Linked DNA regions of Homo sapiens: regions 2, 3, 4 and 5 are each linked to region 1. The links come from fine-mapping of genetic effects on gene expression. A gene starts in region 1. Each other region holds a variant in brackets. All regions are shown on one strand. Distances are between the middles of the regions. Region 1 holds the start of SDCBP2-AS1 (SDCBP2 antisense RNA 1). Region 2 overlaps FKBP1A-SDCBP2 (FKBP1A-SDCBP2 readthrough (NMD candidate)). Region 3 holds the start of FKBP1A (FKBP prolyl isomerase 1A). Region 4 overlaps FKBP1A (FKBP prolyl isomerase 1A). Region 5 overlaps FKBP1A-SDCBP2 (FKBP1A-SDCBP2 readthrough (NMD candidate)).

The links.
Region 2: its variant is fine-mapped to the expression of SDCBP2-AS1 in whole blood (TOPMed, PIP above 0.99).
Region 3: its variant is fine-mapped to the expression of SDCBP2-AS1 in whole blood (INTERVAL, PIP 0.99).
Region 4: its variant is fine-mapped to the expression of SDCBP2-AS1 in lung (TOPMed, PIP above 0.99). The same link has a PIP of 0.9 or more in whole blood.
Region 5: its variant is fine-mapped to the expression of SDCBP2-AS1 in whole blood (TOPMed, PIP above 0.99).

Annotation. Positions count from the first base shown.
Region 1 is chr20:1,322,824-1,327,507 of GRCh38, forward strand. SDCBP2-AS1 (SDCBP2 antisense RNA 1) reads left to right here and starts at 2,520. Exons shown (of 3, transcript NR_040049.1): 1 at 2,520-2,706. The region is part of intron 1 of SDCBP2 (syndecan binding protein 2); the gene reads right to left. All of the region lies in intron 2 of FKBP1A-SDCBP2 (FKBP1A-SDCBP2 readthrough (NMD candidate)), which reads right to left. It overlaps LOC124904856 (a long non-coding RNA gene), which reads left to right. Exons shown (of 2, transcript XR_007067487.1): 2 at 1,043-1,546. RefSeq lists enhancers at 2,582-2,811, 2,802-3,096.
Region 2 is chr20:1,362,489-1,367,172 of GRCh38, forward strand. The region is part of intron 2 of FKBP1A-SDCBP2 (FKBP1A-SDCBP2 readthrough (NMD candidate)); the gene reads right to left. The region is part of intron 1 of SDCBP2-AS1 (SDCBP2 antisense RNA 1); the gene reads left to right. Among named protein-coding and RNA genes, the nearest start is that of MIR6869, 28 kb to the right of the region's middle. The variant A/G (reference allele first, on the strand shown) is at 2,307.
Region 3 is chr20:1,392,039-1,396,722 of GRCh38, forward strand. It overlaps FKBP1A (FKBP prolyl isomerase 1A), which reads right to left and starts at 1,016. Exons shown (of 5, transcript NM_000801.5): 1 at 924-1,016; 2 at 796-843. The coding sequence starts at 960. FKBP1A-SDCBP2 (FKBP1A-SDCBP2 readthrough (NMD candidate)) reads right to left here and starts at 1,134. Exons shown (of 10, transcript NR_037661.1): 1 at 924-1,134; 2 at 796-843. MIR6869 (microRNA 6869) reads right to left here and starts at 923; the gene lies at 862-923. RefSeq lists an enhancer at 408-908 and silencers at 643-712, 723-822, 1,023-1,072. The variant T/G (reference allele first, on the strand shown) is at 2,505.
Region 4 is chr20:1,374,897-1,379,580 of GRCh38, forward strand. FKBP1A (FKBP prolyl isomerase 1A) reads right to left here. Exons shown (of 5, transcript NM_000801.5): 3 at 595-707. All of the region lies in intron 2 of FKBP1A-SDCBP2 (FKBP1A-SDCBP2 readthrough (NMD candidate)), which reads right to left. It overlaps SDCBP2-AS1 (SDCBP2 antisense RNA 1), which reads left to right. Exons shown (of 3, transcript NR_040049.1): 3 at 1,902-3,839. Among named protein-coding and RNA genes, the nearest start is that of MIR6869, 16 kb to the right of the region's middle. RefSeq lists an enhancer at 2,493-3,692. The variant C/T (reference allele first, on the strand shown) is at 1,906.
Region 5 is chr20:1,352,738-1,357,421 of GRCh38, forward strand. The region is part of intron 2 of FKBP1A-SDCBP2 (FKBP1A-SDCBP2 readthrough (NMD candidate)); the gene reads right to left. All of the region lies in intron 1 of SDCBP2-AS1 (SDCBP2 antisense RNA 1), which reads left to right. Among named protein-coding and RNA genes, the nearest start is that of SDCBP2, 26 kb to the left of the region's middle. The variant C/T (reference allele first, on the strand shown) is at 2,407.

The DNA.
Region 1 (4,684 bases):
GTCCCCCAAAGTGTTGGGATTACAGGCCTGAGCCACTATGCCCAGCCTTTTGTTTTTAAAATCTGAATTAGTGCCAATATTTAAAAATCTGGAAACACAAAATGCGTCACTTCTTACTTGGATTGAAAAAAATATAAACATTTGGCAAGGCAAGAGCTGGAATAGTGCATGGCAACACTCACCCGGCTGAGTCACAGCCTACCTCGCAAATGGGGCTGTACGTGCTTTCCTGTTTCCGCAAGTACCCATCAGCCCTTCACTGATTTACGTTGCCTGCTTGGTTCCTGGAGGCAGCCAGTTCCAGACCCTGCCCTAGCCTGGCCTTTGGGGTAGAAATGACCATCCCAACAGGACAGGAATTTCCTGGGAGGGGAGGGAGTCTGGCTCTGACTTCCTTTAGACCACCTGGGGGAAGAGACCCCTTTGCTTATAGCCTTCCCCACTGTGTACACACACTATGAGATTTTTAATCTTGGGACAGTCCTGAGCAGCTATCATCTGCCAAAACATGACCTGCCACCAGGACCACGCATGAACAGCAGATGCGAAAATAAGCAGCCACTCCTGCCCTGATTTTCCTAACATTTAACCAGTAGAGCACTTATATTTTTGTCAGCTGTCCCCTGGGAGAGCAGGGAGTCAGAGATCCATTTCCTGGAAATCACTCCCGGGCCAGATCACATAACCCTTTTTCTGTGTCTGAGATCCTTTCACCACTGCCACCTTCTCTGGATCCCATCTTAGTGCTGGGATGCGGGGAAGTGAGAAAACAGGTACAGTCGTTCCTTGGGGTAGGTTCCAGGACAATGCCCCTCACTCCCCATCCCTCGGATACCAACATCCACAGCTGCTTATGTCCCTTACATAAAGTGGCATAATATTTGCATATAACTTATGCACATTCTTCTGTATACTTTAAATCATCTCTAGATTACTTACAATACCTAATGCAATGTAAATGCTAAACAAAGTTATATTTTATTTTTATTTGAATTTTTGTTGTTTTTTTTAATTTTTATTTTTAAATATTTTCTGTCTACAGTTGGTTGGATCCATGGATGTGAAACCTGGGGATAGGAAAGGCATACTGTATCCCCTGCCTTGTAGCAGCTCACAATATAATGGGGAATGGTTCCCTGCCAGCGAACATGCTGTGTTTCGTTCAATCATTCAAAACATTTGAGTGTCCACTGTGTGCCAGACGTGCTGGTCCCTCTGCTGTGCACATCATCCTCCTTGGTGTGATGCTCCTTCGAGGCTCAGTTCAGATGCTACTTCTCTGCTTGGCTTTTCCAGACTGCATGATACCCAGGCTGCCTGGCTGGGTCTTCCCATGTATTCCACCCCTGACCTGTACTGCCCCTGTTGCCAAGCTATTTATCAAATTATGTGATTAATATCTGGGTATTTTCTTACACTGGACCTCACTCATAAGGGCAGGAGCTCTGTCCCGTTCACACACGATCCTTCCCCGCCACGGCACTGCCCAGCACACATATGCTAGCAAAAATTATTTGACTGAATAAATCAGTGGTTTTCCAAGGAACAGATTGGAAATTTATGTGGGCATTTTTGGGTGTCACGAGACTGAGGGGACAGTCATATCCCTGTCGGGGGTGGGGGGGGCAGGGATATGAAACTCCTGTAATGGATGGGACAGTCCATTACAGTCACCATAACAAATGGTCCTGTCCCGCACAACTTTCAGATATCCTGCCAAACTTTCAAGTAAGCCAAAAATCCGTTATAATTGGTTGTACATACAATCACAATGAATTTTTCCCTAGTTTTAGTACACACTAGACTGTCTGGAAATGCATATATCAGGTTGGTTGTGGGGAGTTACACTTTGCTCACCATTCTGGAAAATCGCTGCCCACCCTGCTCCCCACGGGTGAGTCACCCGAACAGCATGCTCACGTCTGTGTACATGTGTAGCTGTCACAGTGACTCCGCGCTTTTATATAAATATATTTAGCCTTTGACTCAAGATGTCAGATATAAACTGTTGGCAAAATTCAGCTGAATATTGTCTTCTAGTAAACCTAAGCTGATTCCTAAGTTGGGTACAAGCGTGATCGGGTGTAAGCCAGCCTCAGCTTTTACAAAGTGAAATGCATATTCTTTTATTAGAAATTACTTTCATGTCCCTGCCTTCTCCTTATAAACAAAGGGCATCATATTGATTTTTTACCCGGGGAACCATCACCTGGGCTGCAGCCTCAGGACGAACCTGTGCCTTCCCTCTGTCTCAATTTCCTGCTTTGGGAAATAGGAGCCACAAGCCACAAACTCCATCCACCGCGCCACAGGAGCGAGGTCCAACGCAACGGTCCCTAGGGCCTGCCTCCAACCCAGCCTCAGTTTCCTATCTGTCACATCGTTCTATGATCTCGAAATGACTATAACCCCTTTCTTAGCCCCAAACCAGCCGGAAGCGACATCTTCCGGTTGCTACAGGTTACGGCGGTTGCTATGGGCTACGGCGCCTGCGCAGAAACACCGCCAAGCGACTCAGCAACTTCTAGAGCGCATGCGTTTCGCCCACCCAGGCCCGGGCGCGGTTAGGGGTGACTCCCACGATCCCTAGCGGCTGCAGAGTGGAACATGGCGGCCTCCTTGCCGCTTGCGTTACCAGAGTCCACCCGGCCTCGTGCTTTCTCCGGGCGCCCGTAGCTGGCGCCGGCATCCACAAAAATAGATCAGGTAAAGCAGCAGAGTAAGGCATAGGAAGACTTGGTCGGGCTCCGCGGCCCCTCTTTACCGGATTGGAGGCTGCGCGGGTGAAATCGAGCTTTAAACTCCCCTGGCCTCGGAACACCATTTGTAGCCTCTGAAGGAGGAGGACTTATAAGATTCTGTACTAAGGCAGCCGTGGGAAGGGAGGAGAACCAGGTCGGCCCGCGCGCTCCCGGCTGCTTTTGCTCTCCCTTTGGTTTCGAAAGCGTCAAGTCCCAAGGTATTTCCTACCAATTGTGACGTCACCCTTCCTCCCCCGTTTCTCACCCGTTTCTTGTCTGGCCGTGACTTCTGACCCAGTGTTGAGCTAAAAATGCCCCGCCCCACCCTACGCAGATTCACCCCGCGTCCCACCCACCAGTGACTGAGTGACTGGGCTTCTGCTGCCTAGGGAAGGGTTCTTGGCTTGGCCGGGCAAATCAATTCCCACAGCAAAATCAGACCGAAAGCCTGTTATGAGGGACTCAGGCAGTTGGATGTGGCGTATAGGAGGAAGGCTAGGGCAATCAGGAAGGTCTCCTGGAGGAAGGAAGAAGACCCTGACTGGGCCGTGTAGGATGGATGTTCAAGTGGGAAGAGAGTGTGCTATTCCAGGGACAGGGAGGCCCAGGCCTGAGAGTCCAGTTGCCTTCTGGATCCCGTTTACCTCGCAGATTATCCAAACTGGACTCGTGATTTTCCCCAGCTGTGCCGCGCCTCCCCAGCGGTCTCACTGAATCCACCCATGGGCTATGTCAGAAATCTGGGAGTTATCCTCAGCTCCTCCCTTTCCCTTCTGAAGCCATACCTACTTCTTGCCCTCAAATCTCTGTGACCTGACTTCTGGTAATGTTTCCATTCTCACCATCTCATTCTTCTCCACACTTATCATGAAGTTCATTTATTCCAGACTACTTTAGGTTGAGTCCTAAAAGTCAGCCTGCTAGTTCATGCCTCCATGCTTTTGCAGGTGCTATTCCCTCTGTCTTAAGAGTCATTCATGCCTTCTCTCTTTTCCTTGTTGTGAACTCTTTTTCCTCCAATTTAAAGCTTTCCCCCACCTGTACGCATGGAGATTGGCAAGCCTCCCTTCTCTAGACGACAGCATTTCTTGTATTTGCCTCTTCATCATATATTCCACAAGTGTTTGTTAATCACCTACTATGAGCAAGGCCTTCTGCATTTCCTAGGTTGGATTTCCACTGTGCTGTGTTTGTTTGCTCATCTCCCTCACTGGTCAGGAAATGTCACTCATTTGTTAACCCCCAGTGCTGAGCACAGTGCCTGGCACACAACAGGCATCCCATTACTATTTCTGAAAGGAGTGGAAAAGCAGGCACAGAGAGAAGAGAAAGCCTGATATCCTAAATATACAGTCTTTCTTCCCATGCCTGTCTGTGTTTGCAGTCAATAAGTAGAAAGTCTTTCGAAGAATAACCTGGGCCTGGAAAAGGAGAGAAACCATGGCCCTAACGAGTTAGGTTGAAAGGCTGCCTGGCTCCTATAATCTGACAGTGGAAGTTTGCTCAGTTCTGTGCTGATGGCTTCCCACAAGTAATTGGTTCCTCCGAAAGGAAAAGAACCCACCTAACCCCTCTCTCTCAGAGGAATTTTCCTCTCCCACAGCCCTTTCCAGATTTCCATCCCTGAGCTTCTGTACTTTTTGATATAAGCAATAACAACACCCACAACAAACCAATAGCTGGGCTTCGGAGATCAGCAGGGCTGACAAGGGGACTTCAGCCCCCATCTTTGAACTTAGAGTGAGAACACTCTTTGGAACACTTTGTTCCAAAGAGCTGAAGTGATGGAACTCCCACTCGTTCCTGTGGACAGCTCATCCGTCCTTTACAAGACAGTGCGCGGGAGGGAAGCGTGGGTTAGAGTGTCAGAGGAATAGCTCCTGGAAGGCCAAATTAGCCCAGGGATGTGGTGAGTCGGAATAGAAGAAGCTGTTGCTAGGCCA
Region 2 (4,684 bases), 40 kb after region 1:
CTAAATGAACCCCAAAGCTGGCTTGTGTCCTGCATCCATCCACCACTCTTGCCCTTGTTTCACTTATCTATTGCTGTGAAATAAACTTCAAAACCAAGTGATTCAGTCTCACAACTCTGGTTTTCCTGGGCTGAGTGGGGTGGTTCCTCTATTCATGTGATGTGGCTGGAGCTGTGGGCATTTGTGGGCTTGAATGGGCTGAGTGTTCACCGTGGTTCATTCACATGGTGGCAGCTGGCTAGGTTCTCAGCTAGGACGATGGCCTCTCCATGTAGCTTGGGCTCAGAGCTAGTGTTCTGAGAAGGAAGTAGAAGCTGGCAGTCCTATTGAGGCCTGGGCTTGAAGTCCCAGAACATCCTTTCCCACTGCCTTGTAATGATCAAAGTAGTCACAAGGCCAGCCTAGATTCAAGGGCTTGGAGGAATACTACCTTTCAGTCAATTTCCCAGTTTCCAGAGGATTTTAAAAAAACAAACGGCTCGACACAGTGGCATGTGCTACTCGGGAGGCTAAGGTGGGAGGATCGCTTGAGCCTGGGAGGTTGAGGTTGCCGTGAGCTGTGATTACACCACTGCACTCCAACCTGGGTGACAGATCAGACCTTGTCTCAAAACACTCTCCCCAAAACAAATAGACATAATTCTCCTGCTGGAATCCACTGCTCACTAGACTTACATTGTAATAGCCTGCCTCACCTGGCCCCTGCCTAACTCTGTCCCTCACACCTTTGCTCTGTCTCTAAAGGTCATACTGCTGTTTCCCCAGCACCCCAAACTCACCACCCTTCAGGGACTTAGCCTAGAACAATTTTCCTCCAGGACTTCACTTGGCCACTTCACTCCATTGCTTCCAGACGGCTGGCATTATTTGCCCATCTGTTTTGGGTCTCCTTCACTGGCATGAATGTAAGGTCCTTGCCAGCAGCACTTTTCTGTCCTATCCTACATTCACTCTTAGCATCTAGAATGGTGTTATCACAGGAAAGGCATAAAAGTATACTCTGTGGTTAACTGAATTTACTTGCCTAAATCTTGGGCATGTGATGCTTTGAGAAATATACAAATTAATGTTAAACAGAACCACAGTGGTCAGTAACAGGCACATCCAAGGATACACTAGTCCTGCATACATACCCACTGGCATGTTTCTACCTTCCTAATAAGAGCTGACAGCCGTTTTGCTGCATGCTGTACAGGACAGCTGCTGCTGCAAACTCAGCCTCTGATGGGCCCATAGTCGATGTGCCCACTGCATGCCTTGAACTCAGGGAATTCAGACGAAATCATCACACACTCCAGCCAGAAGCTAGAGGGCTGCCGGCCTTGACATTTTAATGCATTTTTGGTGTCAGCTGCCCTTCACTGATTCACTCAATTCTAGAGGTCTGAATGAGAATCCCTACACGCTTCTCAGGGGTTCTGAAGAAGCCAGTGTAGCCCAAGGTCATCAACCCAAGTGAACCCACATTTATCCAGGAAGCAAGAGGTGTGGCAAGGGCAGAATTCTAACAGACATCCATTCCACATGTGTCAGAGACAAAACTAAGTCCAAGATAAAATCGACAAAGGCTATTTATTCATAAACGTGCAGCAGGGGAACCCTTCTGCTGAAACCTTTGTTTTGGTAAGTGTTCAGAGGTGTTAAGACGTTATAGAGTAAAAAGGAGAAATACTGACAGTGTTGACTTGGCAAATGTCATATAAGGGTAGGATTTGTGGAAGCAAGCCAAGAGACAAAGTGGTCTTCAAGTACATTTGACTTGATTAGCTTCAAGGAGGCAGGTGAGCAGTCTGGGACCATTTCAAAAGAGGAAAGGGGCGGAGAGTTTTCTGTGGCCAGCCATTTCCTGGAAAAAGTGATGGTTGATGGGATGCTTTTTTGCAGTCTATCATCATGGTTCTTAGGGGTGTAAAAAGTAAAGTGAGGTTCCTCTTCAAAGACTTTCCTCCCTGTCTAATTAAGAATAAATAGTAACTTCTCTTAGGAGCAAAACTTATTCAAAGACCTGTGCTAACATTCTTAAATATCTGCTAGCCGTAATAAAGAAATCAATGTACTTTATGTTCTTAGCTCCCACAATTTAGCCTATTTGCCCTGGCAATGCTTATACTGGTCCAAGCAAGCATTAGGTCATAGCCTGTTCCTCTTCCTTATCTGAAGGTGTTTTTACGTTTCTCAGCATTCCACAAGTTACTTCCTCCTTCATTCTCCTCTGCCTTTGCCTCTTTTAAAAAGTTCTAAGTTGCTAGCCAATCAGGACAAATACAGAATGTGAGGTCCCGTTCCAGCCAATGGAAACTGGACAC[A/G]GCAGTAAAGTGGACTTGTCAAGTTATAAATGACCCTGTCTCCTTTGTTCGGTGTTCTCTCGTGGCAAAACTGCTGGCGAGTGTACCCTTTCTGCAGAAAGTATAAAAATGACCTTGCTGAAGAAATTAATGTTCAAGTGCTATTTCTTTGCGGCACTGAAGAACAAGCATTTCAAACAGAGGGTAGGGTGGGGTGGTGGTGGTGGTGTTATGTGGTTGCCACAGCTAAGTTAAGTTTTTCACATGGATCATTAACTTTCAAATAATTAAAATTTTAGAGATGCAAGGTATCTTAAAGTTCATCTGGTCACTCTGACCACCCACATTCCCACTCTCATCCCAAGTTCATTTAATGGATGGAAAAACTCAAACAAAAGGTAGTTTGGCATCTAACCCTTAGCAAAGGTTAGATGTGGAATTAGAAGTTTTCCTGAATCCTAGGACTGTAGTATAACCATCATGCATTTCAAAAGTAAAACAAAAAAGGAAATTTAAAAAAAGAAAATACAGTAAGTAGCCACATAAACCGCTTCTAGCTGGGTCCACTGGTCCCCCTGCTTCTTGTTTATTAACGGAATCTGTTCAGGGGCTCTAGGGCTCAGAGCTTTAGGGGAGTCTGAGCCCTTCTCCAGCCCTGGGGTGATGGGTCTTGATTGATCCAGGTCAAATTCTCCACAGATTTAATTCTGGCCAATGAATATGAGAAGAAATGAGAAGGTGGAAAGGTGTCTTAGTCTACTTTTTGCTGCTATAATAAAAATACCAATACATGGGGTAAATTATAATGAAGAGAAATTTATCTCATGGAGTTCTGGAGGCTGGGGAGTCCCAAAATCAAGGTGTTGGCATCTGGTGAGGAGCTTCTTGCTGTCCACCCCATGGTGGAGGGTGGAAGGGCAGAAAGAGAGAGAGGGCTGGAGGCCAATAGGTGGCTGAACTCATTTTTTTATGAGGAACCCACTCCCATAATAACAGCATTAATCCACTCATGAGAGCAGAGCCCCCATGACCCAACCATTTCCCATTAGGTCCTACCTCCCCACACCCACTGCACTGGGGATCAAGTTTCCAACACATGGAACTTTGGGAGACACATTCACGACATAGCAGAGGACCACTGGAGAAAGGAAGGTTTTTAAAGATTTTTTTTAGGACACTATGGAAGTGATAGCCATTGGACATGGATGGTGTTTTTGTTTTTGGCATGGGAAAAGGCTTATACAACTCTGGTCAACTTGGCAACACTAATCAAAAGTCAAAATCTCCTTTGACCCTAGGGATCCCCTACTATTAACAGTATTATATCTTATAGAACCTAGGTATTTAGGAAAGAAAAAAATGTTCAAAGATGTATTGACATTTAATAAAAGCAAATAACTGGACATAACCCAGCTATCCAAATACAGGCTATCAGGAAACACTGTGAAGGACTTTGAAATAGGTCTTGCCCACTGCCCCCACCCCTGCCTCCAATTACTGAGTGTTCTGTCTAATCTAGCCCACCTTTCTGAGTTGATTCCCTTTCATTTCACTGCCTTTGAGCTACTTTACAATTACGTAAATTAAGGGAAACTGATAATGCAGATGATTCTTGTTCATAGAAATGCAAATTGTGACCAATGGAATATAACTGATTATTGTTCTGCAGGTATCAGCCAATTTTGCCAGTTTTGTAACTACGAAGCAAACTCATTTCAGCATTCCTGCTAGGCTTATAATTATTTGTTCTTTGGATTCTCCTTTGAGCCAATTAAAGTGTCCTACTGGTTCTCTCAATAATTAACAAGTTAAATACAATCATCTTTAACATGTTACTTTTATATTTGTATGAGTCATAATTTTAACTTCTAAAAAAATTATCCTTTAACAAGGTAGTTAAGTAAATTTAATGTTCATGTGGTATAATTTACTTAGCAGCCCTCTTAAAACAGTTATAAAAACCATATGGCAACAGGGACAAATACTCCTGATAAAAATGGCAAGTGGGGAAAAAAGCAGAAATGCAAAATTTGTACTACGTTGTGATTAAAGCTAAACGTTGTAAGTGCTTAGGGCAAGAAATAGGAAGGAGAAAAAAAATTGAAGTTGGATTTGTTTGTTAGGGTGGTAGGATCCTGGATTAAAAAAAAAAAACAAAACCCTGACATTATTCTGTTATACATTAAAAATAATATTGGCGGGCATGGTGGCTCACGCCTGTAATCCCAGCACTTTGGGAGGCCAAGGCAGGCGGATCACGAGGTCAGGAGATCGAGACCATCCTGCTAACACGGTGAAACCTCATCTCTACTTAAAATACAAAAAATTAGCCAGGCGTGGTGGCACGTGCCTGTAGTCCCAGCTACCAGGGAGGCTGAGGCAGGAGAATCACTTGAACC
Region 3 (4,684 bases), 69 kb after region 1:
AAAATTTCCTTTGGCTTGTATTATCACTATGTATTAGCCTCCAGATGCTTATCTTTAAAATGAGGACGAGAAAAGTCTCTACTTCTAGAAGAGCTGGGGGACTAAATTACACGTGCAGCTTTCGGTCAGCCTGAGCCAGCGCTGTCACTGAGCCTTGGATTTGTAAGTGGCTCAAAAGTAAAAAGACGGAAGAAGGCCGTGCAGCTCTACTTCCCCCAAGGCCAGGAAGGGCCAAAGCAATGACTTAGGAAGTGGGATGTTTCCCCACCCTAGGCAAAGGGGCGAATTCCGAGTTCCCCGGAGGAAGCAGCAGCTCTGCAGACTCGGAATTACCTCGTCCTCATCTCCAGTGAAGGGAGGGATGGAAGTGGGGGCAGGGGCACAGAAATGGTACAAATCCTTCCTAATGGTCCCTGGCCAGAGCTCTGCCCATTCCTGAAAGTGTGACCTTGGGAAAGTGAGACCTTGGGAAAGTGACTTCGCCTCGCCAAGCCTCAGTTTCCTCATCTGTGCAGCGGGCATAAGGGCAGCATCTAAGGTGCAGAAATGCTTCTGACGGGTCAGATAACACCTAGCCCGCAGCCGACGCTCACAGCCGCCGATTCAGACCCGCCCGGGTTCCGCAAGCCCCAGGCTGCCCCTGAGCCACCGCCCAGGCCTCAGCCTCGGGCCATGCGGACCTCGCCGCCGCCACGCCCCGGACCCCAGGCCCCGGGCCCCCAGGCCTCGACGGCCAGCCGCACCCGGGCTGCGGACTGCGGCCCGGGCCCCCTCCCCGCTGGGCCCCCGACTCACCGGTGTAGTGCACCACGCAGGTCTGGCCGCGCTTGGGGAAGGTGCGCCCTGAGGAGACAGAGACGGGCATGCTGAGCCGATGCGCGCGGCGGCAGAGGTACTCCGAGCCGCCGCGCGCCACTACTCACCGTCTCCTGGGGAGATGGTTTCCACCTGCACTCCCATGGCGGCGGCGGACGCTGAGCGGGCGGGCGGCGCGACGGGCGGCGTGGACCAACAGCGACCTGGCGGCGGTTCCACGGCTCTGCCTAGTACCTCGGCGCGTCGCCTGCGCACGCGCACGCCCCCTCACGCCCAGCCCTGCGTGCGCGCCCCACACGGCGCGCGACGTCCCGGAAACCCAGGCCTCCGGAAGAGGGACCGGAAGCCCAGAAGCCCCGAGACCTCCGGAAGCCCGGAGGCCTCCGGATACAGCTGTGTTTGCCGGGTGACTTGCTTCGTTCTCCTGCCCTTCCTCTGTGCTTCCAGCCGGTTAAGCATCTCCCTGCCCAAAGAATGGGAGTAATAATAGGGGGTCCGCCAGTCACTGACTGGGTGACTGTCATCAGGTTTCCACTTAGAAGCACACAGTTACTCATCCTGGGAAGAGCATGGTTCTGAGAAGACAGCGCACAGGTGGTGGTAGTATGTTAGTATTTTATAAGTGGCTCAAGGTTGTAAGTTCTGCTTTTCTTCACTGGAGGAGGAGTTGTCCAAATTCATTCACTCACCCATAGCTTACATGCATACATTCTTATTGAGCATGTGAAAGTTGATAATACGAATTGGGTCACTCTTCTTATGCCCAACGGAATCAGAATCCAGGGGCCAGGGGAAAAGCACTGGAGGCACGCAGCGCCTGCTCCAAGAACCAATATTTCCACTAACTGCTGCGGAAATGGCCTGCTGTCCCCCTGAGACCAGATTCAGCTAGTAACTGCTGAAACAACCCGCCATAACCTAATACTAGTTTTACTTACCACTGTCAGTCACCAATCAGAGCTTGCCAGCTCCCTGAAACTTTACTAGTGCCAATGCATTTCCCTTTCTAATAAAACGCCCAGCCTTCTCTTTGTTTTTCGGACATACCAAAGACCACCAGATCTGTGTGTATGCTCCGAGTTGCGATTCTCGCTTCCCCAAATAAAACATTACATTTAGAGATTCATCTCCATATTTTATTTTGACTTTGACAAGCACCTTCTGTATGTCATGTACTGTGCTAGGTGCTGAGGATACAGCGGTGAAGGAGTCAGACTTAGTCCCTGACCTCACAGAATCTACGTATGATGTGGGAGAGATAATCAAATAACCTGTTTAAGTAAAAAAAGATACGGAATAAATGTAAAGTTTCAAATCTGTAATATTATGAGACAGTAATACATGCTGTGAGGGGCGTGTTAATATAACAGAGATGCCTCACTTAGTCTGGAATGTGGTCAGATATTTCCCTGAGTTAGCCAGGTTTAGCCAGGTTTAGCCAAGGTTAGAAGGCCAATTGTGTGTATGTGTTGGGGTAAGGGGAGGCAGAAGGAGCAGTACCTGCAGAGGCACTGTAACGCAAGAGAACACTGTGACATGGTCTAGGACATAAGGAGGCACATGTGACTAATCTTTCTCTGATCTGTGTGTGTGTGTGCTTCTGCATTAGTCGATTCTCACACTGCTATAAAGAATACCTGAGGCTGGGCACGGTGGCTCATGCCTGTAATCCCAGCACTTTGGGAAGC[T/G]GAGGCGGGCAGATCACTTGAGGCCAGGCGTTCAAGACCAGCCTGGCCAACATGGTGAAACCCAGTTTCTACTAAAAATACAAAAAAATTAGCCAGGCATGGTGGCACAGGCTTGTAATCCCAGCCACTTGAGAGGCTGAGGCATAAGAATTGCTTAAACCAGGAGGCGGAGGTTGTAGTGAGCCAAGATTGCACCTCTGCATTCCAGCCTGGGTGACAGAGTGAGAACCAGTCTCAAAAAAAAAAAAAAAAAAAAAAAATTCCTGAGACTGGGTAATTTATGGAGGAAAGAGGTTTAATTGACTCACAGTTCTGCATGGCTGGGAATCCTCAGGAAACTTACAATCATGGCAGAAGGGGAAGCAGGCATATCTTACACAGCAGCAGGCATGAGAGAGAGTATGTGAAGAGGAACTGTCAAACACCTATAAAACCATCATTTCTCATGAGAATGCACTCACTACCATGAGAACAGCATGGGGGAAACCACCCCCACCATCCAATCACCTCCCACCGGGTCCCTCCCTTGACCTCAGGATTATAGGGATTACAATTCAAGATAAGATTTGGGTGGGGACACAGAACTAAACCATACCAGCTCCTGTAGTGTTTTAAACATGACCTCACAGTTTTTTGACACCCCAACCCTCATCTATGTCCCCTTTCCTAAAATCTCAGTGAGCTCGTGACTGCTTTGGAAATTTTAATGTAGTAAGAATACAGGCTGTAACAGAACCAAATTAACTGTGGCTGAAAAGAGGCTGAAGTTGCTGTCTCTCTCATGTAACAGTTCAGAGGCAGGTGGTTCAGTGCAGGTAGGACTTCACAGGCTGCCCAGGGACTCATCCTTCTTCTACTTGTGGCTCCCCATCCTTAGAATCCTACCCTCATATGCATGGTCCAAGTTGGCTCTCCAACATATTTTCATCTCAGCTAGTGGGAAGGGGGAAAGGAGGAATGGGGGGTACATTCCCTTTTCCTTTAAGGGTACGACTTAGAATTGCACACATCTCTTCCCGTTATACTTCACATTGACTATAACTTAGTTATATGGTCAAATTTAGCTGCATGGGAGGCTAGGGAATAAAGTCTTCATTCTGGGTGTACACACACCCAACTAAAATCAGAGGTTCTGTGCTCATAGAATGGAAGAATGGAGATCGAAAGATGAAATTAAAAAGAGGGCCCCAGCAGTCGCCAGGACACTGCTTCACACCACCTAGAGAAAATCAGACTGCAGCGAGAATAAATGATGGAGAATGAGAGCAACCAGGGGCGAGAGAGTTCCTGGATTCCGTTTTCCCTGAAGCCTAGCAGAATAAGGCTTGCCTCACATTCATCCTGTGGTCTCTCTCATGGCTCTGAATTGGGTATCGGTTCAAAACATAGACCTGCCTTTGAGACAGTGGCCATCTCAATCCATGGATATAAGCTTTGTTTATATAGATGGGGGTTCCCCAAGAACCTCACATTTGCACCACTTCTTCCTCAGTGCTTTGGGAAAACACAGGAAAGCATGTAGCTATCAGTTCTGCCACCAGACCTAAGATGAATTGGACCTGGGGACAAGGGGCACTTATTAAGCATTTATCTGATTTTTTGAAGTAACTGGGAGAGTTCCTTTCTAAATTAATTTAGATTCTGTTTATATATAGCCTAGTTATTAACAACTCTGTTAAGTAGTTAAGTTCTTTGGGATCACCCTTAGCAAACCAGAACAAAAAACAGAAAGAGTGAGTGACTCTAAGAGATGGAACTGGGAGAAAGAGCAGGAGATTCTGACTTTCATTTAATATCATTCTGAACTGATTAAATTTATTTTCACTCTCTTTGTGTAACAGGAGACAGGGAATCATTTCAGTCTGAAGTCATAAGCATCCCTCATGACAAGGGGAAGTGACTCCCTCCCTGAAGTTCTAAAACCTGAAAAATGGGGGTTGGATTTCCTTTGGTTTATCCTGTTTGTGGTTTACTCAGCTTCCTGAGTCTATAGGTGTATGCCTTTCACCACATTTGGGAAGTTTTCAGCCATTATTTCTTCAGATATTTTCTTCTGCTCCATTCTGTTTCTCCTGTTCTTCTCAGATCCTGGTAACACGAACATTAGATATTTTGGAATTGTCTCACAGGTGCCTGAAGTTCTGTTCAGCTCCCCCCAGTCCTTTTTCTCTGTTGTTCAG
Region 4 (4,684 bases), 52 kb after region 1:
CACAATCTTGGCTCACTACAACCTCCGCCTGCTGGGTTCAAGTGATTCTCCTGCCTCGGCCTCCCAAGTAGCTGGGATTACAGGCACCTGCCACCACGCCCGGCTAATTTTTGTATTTTTAATGGAGATGGGGTTTCGCCATGTTGGCCAGGCTGGTCTCGAACTCCGGACCTCAGGTGATCCATCCATCTTGGCCTCCCAAAGTGCTGGGATTACAGGAACTCCTGACCTCAGGTGATCCACCCATCTTGGCCTCCCAAAGTGCTGGAATTACAGGCATGAGCCACCGCGCCCAGCCTACTCCTCTTTTATGTAGTGGTATTGCAAGTGTCAAAAATGCATTAAGTGAAAAAGTAAACTGCAAAACAGTATGTGTGTGAAAGCAAGAAAAAAGTTATGTTTTTATATGTGCTTAAACCACAGTACAAGAAACATTAACAACAGGAGCTTCTTGTGGGGGTATTGGTCAGATGGGATGGCATGAGGGTGAGACTTTTCACTTTTTTTATTTTTGAACCGTATAAATATGCCACCTATAAAAAAATATAAAAGGTAAATACTAGAAAGCAAAACAAAACAAATGAGAGAGCATACCTGGGCAACCCCTTCTTCCCAGCCTCGGATCACCTCCTGCTTGCCTAGCATAAACTTAAAGGGCTTGTTTCTGTCCCGGGAGGAATCAAATTTCTTTCCATCTTCAAGCATCCCTGTGAAAAAGACGACTGTAACATGAGCAGCAGAGTAATGACACAAGACAAGTCAGAAACCAGCAGCAGAGCACTCATCAGAGATGCCAGTGCTGAAGAGTCTGGCAGGAACTGCAGTATCTAGGGAGGGTTTCCTGTGACCTCACTGGACATCTAAGGAGTTGCGACAGTCCTACTCCAGACCTGTGAATGCTCTTCCCTGACTCCAAGCAATAACTCGACTACAAAAGGACCCCGCGTACCAGAGATGAGCGGCAGTCCACCTTCTTCTGGAGATGGGGAGTATAAACTTCCTCCTGCCCTGACTCTCCCAGCACCCCGTGGATTTTCTCCCCAGCTAAAAATAACTGTGGTCCCTCGAGGTGCACACTATGTCTAGAAGTCACACACAGTGCAAGAAGCAATATTCCTTCCCAAAATCCCCCATCATCTTTCACATATAATGTGTGTATATATTGCTCCTCCATTGTTCAGTGCAGGCAAATCCCCCTCCACCATCTGCCACCCCCATGGGCTCCTCTGTGGTTCACTAATTGTGACCTACACACATTGCTGCTCTCCAGGCTGTGGGTCAGCACTATGGGATGTGGTAAGAGGAAGCTATAAGGCAAGCTTTCACCCTCATTCTAGTGCCAAGTGTCTCACACCAACAGGGAACCTGGGGCGTAAAGCTGGCCCCTTGTAGGCTGGTTCCTGAGTTGTCATAATTTTCCTGGGAAAGTAAAAACCAACCTAGGCTGAAATAGAGAAATGAAAGAAAGAATTTGTGCAGCATTCATCCCACTTATTTTATCCAATGCTGCCCCACAAAACAACCCATGCTCATTTTTGCACAGCTAATACTTTGTAACAGAGATGACTGAAGAGAACAGGAATACTAAGGAGGTTGCAGTGGTGGCCCTTCAAGAATTAACTCAGTAAACCCAGCCAACTGCTAGCAACTCTGTGGCCAGTGGTTCCACTCTGAGTTACTCTAAATGGGCTAGGTGCTTTCCACACATGAACGAATGCAATTCTTTCTCCACAGCACTATCCCCATTTCACAGATGAAGAAACTGAGGCAGACAGGGAGAAGTGAAAATAGTAAATAGTAAAATTTACTATTATAAAAATAGTAAATTTATAATTTAGTAAAATAGTAAAACTACGTTATAAATTATAAACCCAAATACCATGCTCTTTCTATTATTCCAGTTTC[C/T]CAGAAGCTGGACAAGCCACGACGGCGCCTTCCAATAAAAGGGGAACTCCAGAGACGCTATGAGAAAAGAGGAACAGACATCTGCAATAGATATCTGCAACTTCCTTTTCAAAAACACCATCGGCATTGCTTTCTCAGGAAGCCACTGCCAGCCTATTGTGATAGCTGACACTGAGTTCCTGAGAATTCTCTAATTAGGATCCCAGATTGGAGGGTCAGCCAGTGGTTAACATATAATGGACACAAAACTGATTTTACTGGAAGACTGAGGGTGGGCACTCACCATGGTTCTAAGCATTCATTACTCAGAAGATCCATAAAAACATTACAGTTCTGTTGTGTAAGAGTTTAGGAAAAAAAGAAAATCCTGACAAAAATCCCAACCTAAAAAACAGTGTCAACATTTGTAAGTAGGATGGGGAGGCAGAGATGAATTGGCAGTGTTATCACAGCTACTGGACTATGTGGACTTTAACAAAGTAAGAAACGGGTGGGGGTTGGGTGGTGGTATCTTAATAGAGCAGGAGTAGAGACGGATGTCCTGGGGCAGAATGGGTACCAATGCTGCCTGAAGCCTGGAGCTGGGAGCTGAGGACTAAGAGGTAGACAGGAGGGTGGGGACCGGTACCTGCTCCAAGGAACTGGTGCCCCAGAACTGGTGAGCTGGGGTATGCATTTAGCTCATTCGTTTACCAGAATGCAGTCACCACCTGATGAAAGAAATGACTAATGGCAGGACTTGAACAGTTCTCTATAAATGAGTACCTGGGAGAAAAACAGGTCTCCAGGCTCCACAATACCCAATAAACACACTGCCTTTAGCCCACTTCAAGCTGCACTTCTTACATGGAACCCAACCCAACCAACCTCAGAGGTAAGGGTGAGAGCAGGCAATGAACAGCTATGATTCTCCATTCCCTGGCCAGGCAGGGAGCCTTTCCATCCACCCTCGTGAGACTGCTTGTAACAGAAATAAGGAAACCGACTCCAAGGCTCAGTAACCCACCCAAGGTCAGAACCACGGAGTGGCAGGGCCTGTGAGCCACAAAGGAGACTGAAAACCAGAAAGAGCTTCTCTCTGGTCTGTTATTTTAAGAAAAACATGCCCAGAGGGGCCACCTGGAAGCAAGGCTGTGTGGCACCCTCACCTTCCTAATTAAACAACAACTTCCCAGGAGCAACGACAGCAACAACAGCCTGGCCCAGCAGATGAACTCGAATCAATCCAAGCCCTTCCCCTATACGGGTCAGTTTGGGCACTACTTTACCTGCTGTGAAGTCTACTGGGATCTTCCAGGAAAGTCCCACCTCATTAGTAAAAAGAAAAACAAAGACTCGGGAAGAAAGTTCCTGCCCTCCCTGTTGAATGCTGTGTGAGGATAAGATGTCTGGAGCATGGCAGTCACCCTGTGACTATCAGAAGGCCAGGCGTACCACAAGGTGGTCATTCCAGTGCTCTGAATCAGCCCCAAACCACTTCCCTCAAGACTCATGTTCTGAGGTGATTAAAAGTGTGCTTTGAAGGTAAATCTAGGATGACAGTCAACAGATCAGTGATTGCCAGGAGTCAGGGGTAGAGGGAGGGAAGAACAGATGGAGCACAGAGAATTTTTAGGGCAGTGAAAATGTTCTGTATGATACTATATATAATGGATACATGCCATTATACACTTGTCCAAATGCACAGAATGTACACCACCAAGAGTGAACCCTAATGTAAACTATGGACTTTGGGTGATCATGATGTGTCAATGCAGGTTCGTCAATTGCAACACACGTACCATTCTAGTGGGGGGTGTTGATAACAGGAGGCTATGCATGTGTGGGACCAGGGGATATATGGGAAATCTCTGTACATGCCTCTCAATTTTGCTGAGAATCTGAAACTGCTCTTAATGAAGTCTTACAAAAATAAAGAAGTCTGCTTTGCCTTAGGTTGGGTCTTCAGTTACCTGCAGCCAAATGAACACAACTGGCGTGAGGTAAACCTCTGACACTTAGTGAGCACGCTACAATGTAGTGCTGCCACGAAAGGAATAACAAAGAAACAGAACTCAACAACTAAAACCACAAAGAACTATCCCTGATCCGCGACAATGGGAACAGTGTCTCATGTCAGGACCCAGTACACACCCACATTTTGTCTGTGTATAAACAAAATTTACATGTAAGTTACTACATGGCATATACTTCTCATTTTTAAAAAGAATGCTGATTGTGACCCACTACATTTATTTCATGATGCATTAATGGTTCATAACCCACAATTTGGAAAGTACGGTATACCTATAAAAAATTAGCCTTATTTCTTGCCAAACTTGAACACGGCTCTGACCTGTGCAAGATCGTATTTTGATTGCAGTGAAAGCCACAGGGTACTGAGACAGACTCCCTAAACTTCCTTTTTATTCCTGATCAAATGCAATGCCAAGCAACCTCCAGACACTACATGCATCAATGTATCAATGTTGCTTTGCCTGAGGTGAGATACTTCAACTATCTATCTGACTGGTACCAGGCTAGGAGCACTAGGCAGGACACAGCCTGAATCTGCTGCTGCTGCTGCTGCTGAGCCAGCATGGAGATGTGTATGTTCTTCAGTGGCTCTATGTGAGGATGCCTGTCTAACCCCAGCTCTCCTGAGCCTATCTTGGACACTGAGGGGCAAACCTCTCCCTAGTATCTTAAAACCATAAAAGCCAGGAAGCAGGATTTCTAAGTAAAGGAGCTTTAAACAGGACCTTTGCCTAGGATCTTAATTTTCCTATGCTATTTTGGA
Region 5 (4,684 bases), 30 kb after region 1:
TTCTTTTCCTTCTTTCCTTCCTTTCCATCTTCCTTTTAATGAAGGTGACTTCTCAGGTGGTATGTTTTAATTTCTTGCTATTACTTTTGTGTATCCATTGTATGTTTTTTTATTTGAGGCCACCATAAGGCTTGCAAATAATATCTTGTAACCCATTATTTTAAACTGATGACAACTTAACAATGATTGCATAAGCAAACTAACAAGCAAAGAGATGAATAAAAACTCTACACTTTAACTTCATCCCCTTGCTTTTGACTTTTTGTTGTTTCTATTTATATCTTATTATACTATGTCTTGAAAAGTTGTAGTTATTATTTTTGACAGGGTCATCATTTAGTCTTTCTACTCAAGAGATCAGTAGTTTACACACTACAGTTACAGTGTTATATTCTGTGTCTTTCTGTGTACTTATGATTATCTGTGAATTTTATACTTTCAGATGATTTTTTTTTTTTTTTTGAGACAGGGACTCACTGTCACCCTCGCTGGACTGCAATGGAGTGTGGCTCACTGCAGCCTCAACCTCCCAGGCTCAAGCAATCCTCTCATCCCAGACTTTCAAATAGTTGGGACTTCAGGCACATACCACCATGCCCAGCTAATTTTTACTTTTTGTAGAGATGGGGTTTCATTATGTTACCCAGGCTGGTCTTGAACTCCTGGACACAAGCAATCCCCCAACCTTGGCTTCCCAAAGGGCTGGGATTAAAGGTGTGAGCCCCCAGATGATTTCTTATTGCTCAATAACATCCTTTTTGTTTTTTTAATTGAAGAAATTCCTTTAGCATTTCTTGTAGGACAGATCTGGTGTTGATAAAATCCCTCAGGTTTTGTTTGTCTGGGAAAGTCGTTATTTTTCCTTCATGTTTGAAGGATATTTTCACTGGATAAATTCCAGTATAAAAAGGTTAGTTTTTCTTTAGCCCTTTAAGTATGTCATGCTAGTTTCTCTCCTGGCCTGTAAGGTTTCCACTAAGAAGTCTGTTACCAGATGTATTGGAGCTCCTTTGTATGTTATTTGTTTCTTTGGCTGCTTTTAGGATCCTTTTTTATCTTTGACTTTTGGGAGTCTGATTATTAAATGTCTTGAGGTAGTCTTATTTGGGTTAAATCTGCTTGGTGTTCTATATAACCTTCTTGTATTTGAATATTGATATATCTCTAGGTTTGAGAAGTTCTCTGTTATTATCCTTTTGAATAAACTTTCTACCCTAGTCCCTCTCTCTACTGCCTCTTTATGGCCAGTAACTCTTAGATTTGCCCTTTGGAGGCTATTTTCTAGATCTTGTAAGCATGCTTCATTCTTTCTTATTCTTTTTTCTTTTGTCTCCTGACTGTATTTTAAAATACACTGTCTTCAAGCTCATTAATTCTTTCTTCTGCTTGACAAATTCTGCTGTTAGGAGACTCTGATGCATTCTTCAGTATGTCAGTTGCATTTTTCAGCTCCAGAGTTTCTGCTTGGTTCTGTTTAATTATTTCAACTTCTTTGTTAAATTTATCTGATAGGATTCTGAATTTCTTCTCTGTTATCAACATGATTTTGTTGAGTTTCTTCAAAATGGCTATTTTGAATTATCTATCCAAATATTCATCAATCTCTGTCTGAGATTGGCCCCAGGTGGGTCCATAGATGTCGTCCAGAAGGCAGGGCCTGTAGTTGGGAACCTTAGGAGTCTACCTGATGCTCTATTCTACTGCGGCTGAGCTTGCATCCAAGCCACAAGACAAAGTCCTTTCCACTATTCCCTCCCCTTTCCTCAGGCAGAGGAGTCTCCCCATGGCCACCACTGTCCTAGGCCCGTGGTGAGTACTGCCTGGCTACCACCTATGTTCATTCAAGACCCAAGGGCTCTTCAGTCAGCTTATGGTGAATGCTTGTAGTCCTGATTCTCTCCTTTCAGGGCAGTGGGCTTACCTCTGGCCCAGTACAGGTCCAGAAATGCCATCCAGGAGCCAAGACCTGGAATCGGGGCCCCAGAGTCCCACTTGGTACTCGGTACTCTACCCAACTGTGGCCAAGCTGGTACCCAAGCTGCAAGACAAAGTCCCCTTTACTCTTCCCTCTCCTTTCCTTAGGCAGAAGGGGTCTCTCCCTGAGGCCACCGTAGCTGGGAATGTACTGGGTCACACATGAAGCCAGTGTGGCTCTGAGTCTCACCCAAGGCCTGCGGCCAGTACTACTTGGCTAACACTGCTGATTATTCAAGGCCAAAGGGCCCTTTAGTCAGCAGGTGATGAATTTTGCCAGAACTGGGTCCTTCTGTTCTGGCAGTAGGTTCCTTTCTGGTAAGTTTAGAAATGTCATCCAGAAGCTAGAGCCTGGAACGAGTGCCTCAGACCTCTGCTTAGTGTCCTATTCTACTGTGGCTGAGCTAGTATCCAATTTGCCAAAAAAAAAGC[C/T]CTGTTTACTCTTCTCCTCCTCTCCTCAAGCAGAGGGAAAGAGTCTTTCCTGGAGCTGTAAGCTGTGCTGCCTGGAGTTGGGGGAGAGATGACACAAGCACTCCCTTGATCACCCCAGCTGGTGTCTCACTAGGTCACATGCCTCCCAAGTACACTGGCTCCGAACACAGCATAGCACCAGGACTTGCCCAGGAATTGCAGTCCTTCTGGTCCAGACGGCCTTCCAAATTTATTTAGGACCCCAGAGCACTTTAGCCCACTTTGGCGGGGTTTGCCAGAACTCACGTTCTGACTGCTGGGATGGATGATTTGCCCCTGGCTAGGACATGGGCACTCGCGAAGTTCTGCCCCGTTGCTTTCCACTGTGAGAGGGCGGCACTGAGTTCCATTGCAGTGTCCCACAATCACTGTGCTCTCTTCCAGAAGTGCACATATTCTCTCTCCATACCACACTCAGTGCCTCTTTCTTTAATATGATTTTAATATCAAGTACTGTAATCACTTGTCTGATTTTTGGCTCCTATGAAGGTGCTTTTTTGTGTGGATCATTGTGCAATTTGGTGTTCTTGCAGGGTAGACAATTGCTGGAGGCTTCTTTTCAGCCATCTTGCTCCACCTCCTCCTGATTTGCTAGTATTTTATTGAGGAGTTGTACATCTGTGTTCCTGAGAGATTGGTTTTTAATTTTCCTTTATTATAATATCTTAATCTCGTTTCGGTATTAGGGTAGTGCTGGCCTCATAGGATGAGTTAAGAAGTATTCCCTCTGCTTCCGTTTTCTGGAAGAAATTGCAGAGAATTGATACTATTTATTCCTTAAACATTTGGTTTCACCAGTGAAACCAGTGAAACCATCTGGGTCTTGTACTTTCTTTTTTTGGAAGGTTACTAATTATTAATTCAGTATAAAACCAGCCTTGCATTTTAAGAATGAGTGAGAGGCATACAGTTTAATTCCATCACAACTGATCAGAAAACATACTTCACATAACTTCAATTATTTTAAATTTGTTAAAGTTTGTTTTATGTCCCAGGATATGGTCTATCTTGGTAAATGTTCCATGTGCACTTGAAAAAAAAATGTGTATTCTGCTGCTGTTGGATGGAATGTTCTAGAAATGTCACTTAAATGTTGTTGCTCATGTTGTTAATTTCTTCTAATCTTTGATGATTTTTTTTTTTTTGTCTAATGGTTCTATCAGTTAGTGATAGAAGGATGTTGAAGTCCACGCTGTAATTGTGGATTTATCTATTTCTTCTTTCAATTCTGTCAGTTTTCACATTATTTTATAACTTTGTTGTTCAGTGCATACTATTTTAGGGTTGTTGAGTCCTCTTGGCTTGGGGTTTGCTCATTTTCTTAAATCTGAAGATTTACACCTTCCACCAAATTTGGGGAGTTTTCAGCTATGATTTCTTTAAGTATATTTTCAGCACTGCACTCTTTCTCTTGTCCTTATGGAACTTCAATAGCTCTAAAGAGTATTTAGATCTTGGAGTATTTTCCCATAGGTCCTTAAAGTCCTATTCATTTTTAAAAAATCTATTGTCTTTTTTTTCCTCTGTTCAGACTGTGTAACTTTTATTGGTTTGTCTTCAAGTTCAATGTTTCTTTCCTCTGTCATCTCCACTCTGCCATTGTGTCCATCCAATGAGTTTGTTTCTGTTATTGTGTATATATATATATTTTTAAGTTCTAAAACTTCCATCTGGGGCTGGGTGTGGTGGCTCATGCCTGTAATCCCAGCACTTTGGGAGGCTGAGGCGGGCAGATCACTTTAGTCCGTGAGTTTCAGACCAGCCTGGGCAACATGGCGAAACTCCATCTCTATAAAAAATACAAAAAATTAGCTGCGCATGAAGGCATGTGCCTGTAGTCCCAGCTATTCACGATGCTGAGGTGGAAGGATCGCTTGAGCCCAAGAGGTGGAGCTTGCAGGTGAGCTGAGATCACGCCACAGCGCTCCAGCCTGGGTGACAGAGACAAACCCTGTCTCAAAAGAAATAAGTTAATAAATAAAAAATAAAATAGGCTGGGCACAGTGGCTCACACCTGTAATCCCAGCGCTTTGGGAGGCTGAGGCAGGCAGACTGCTTGAGCACAAGAGTTTGAGAGCAGCCTGGGCAATGTAGTGAGACCCTGTCTCTATTTTTTTAAAAATGATTTAAAATAAAATAAATCTTCCATTTGGGGTTTCTTTTTCTTTTTTTTTCTTTTTTTAAGATGGAGTTTCACTCTTTGTTGTCCAGGCTGGAGTGCAATGGCACAATCTTGACT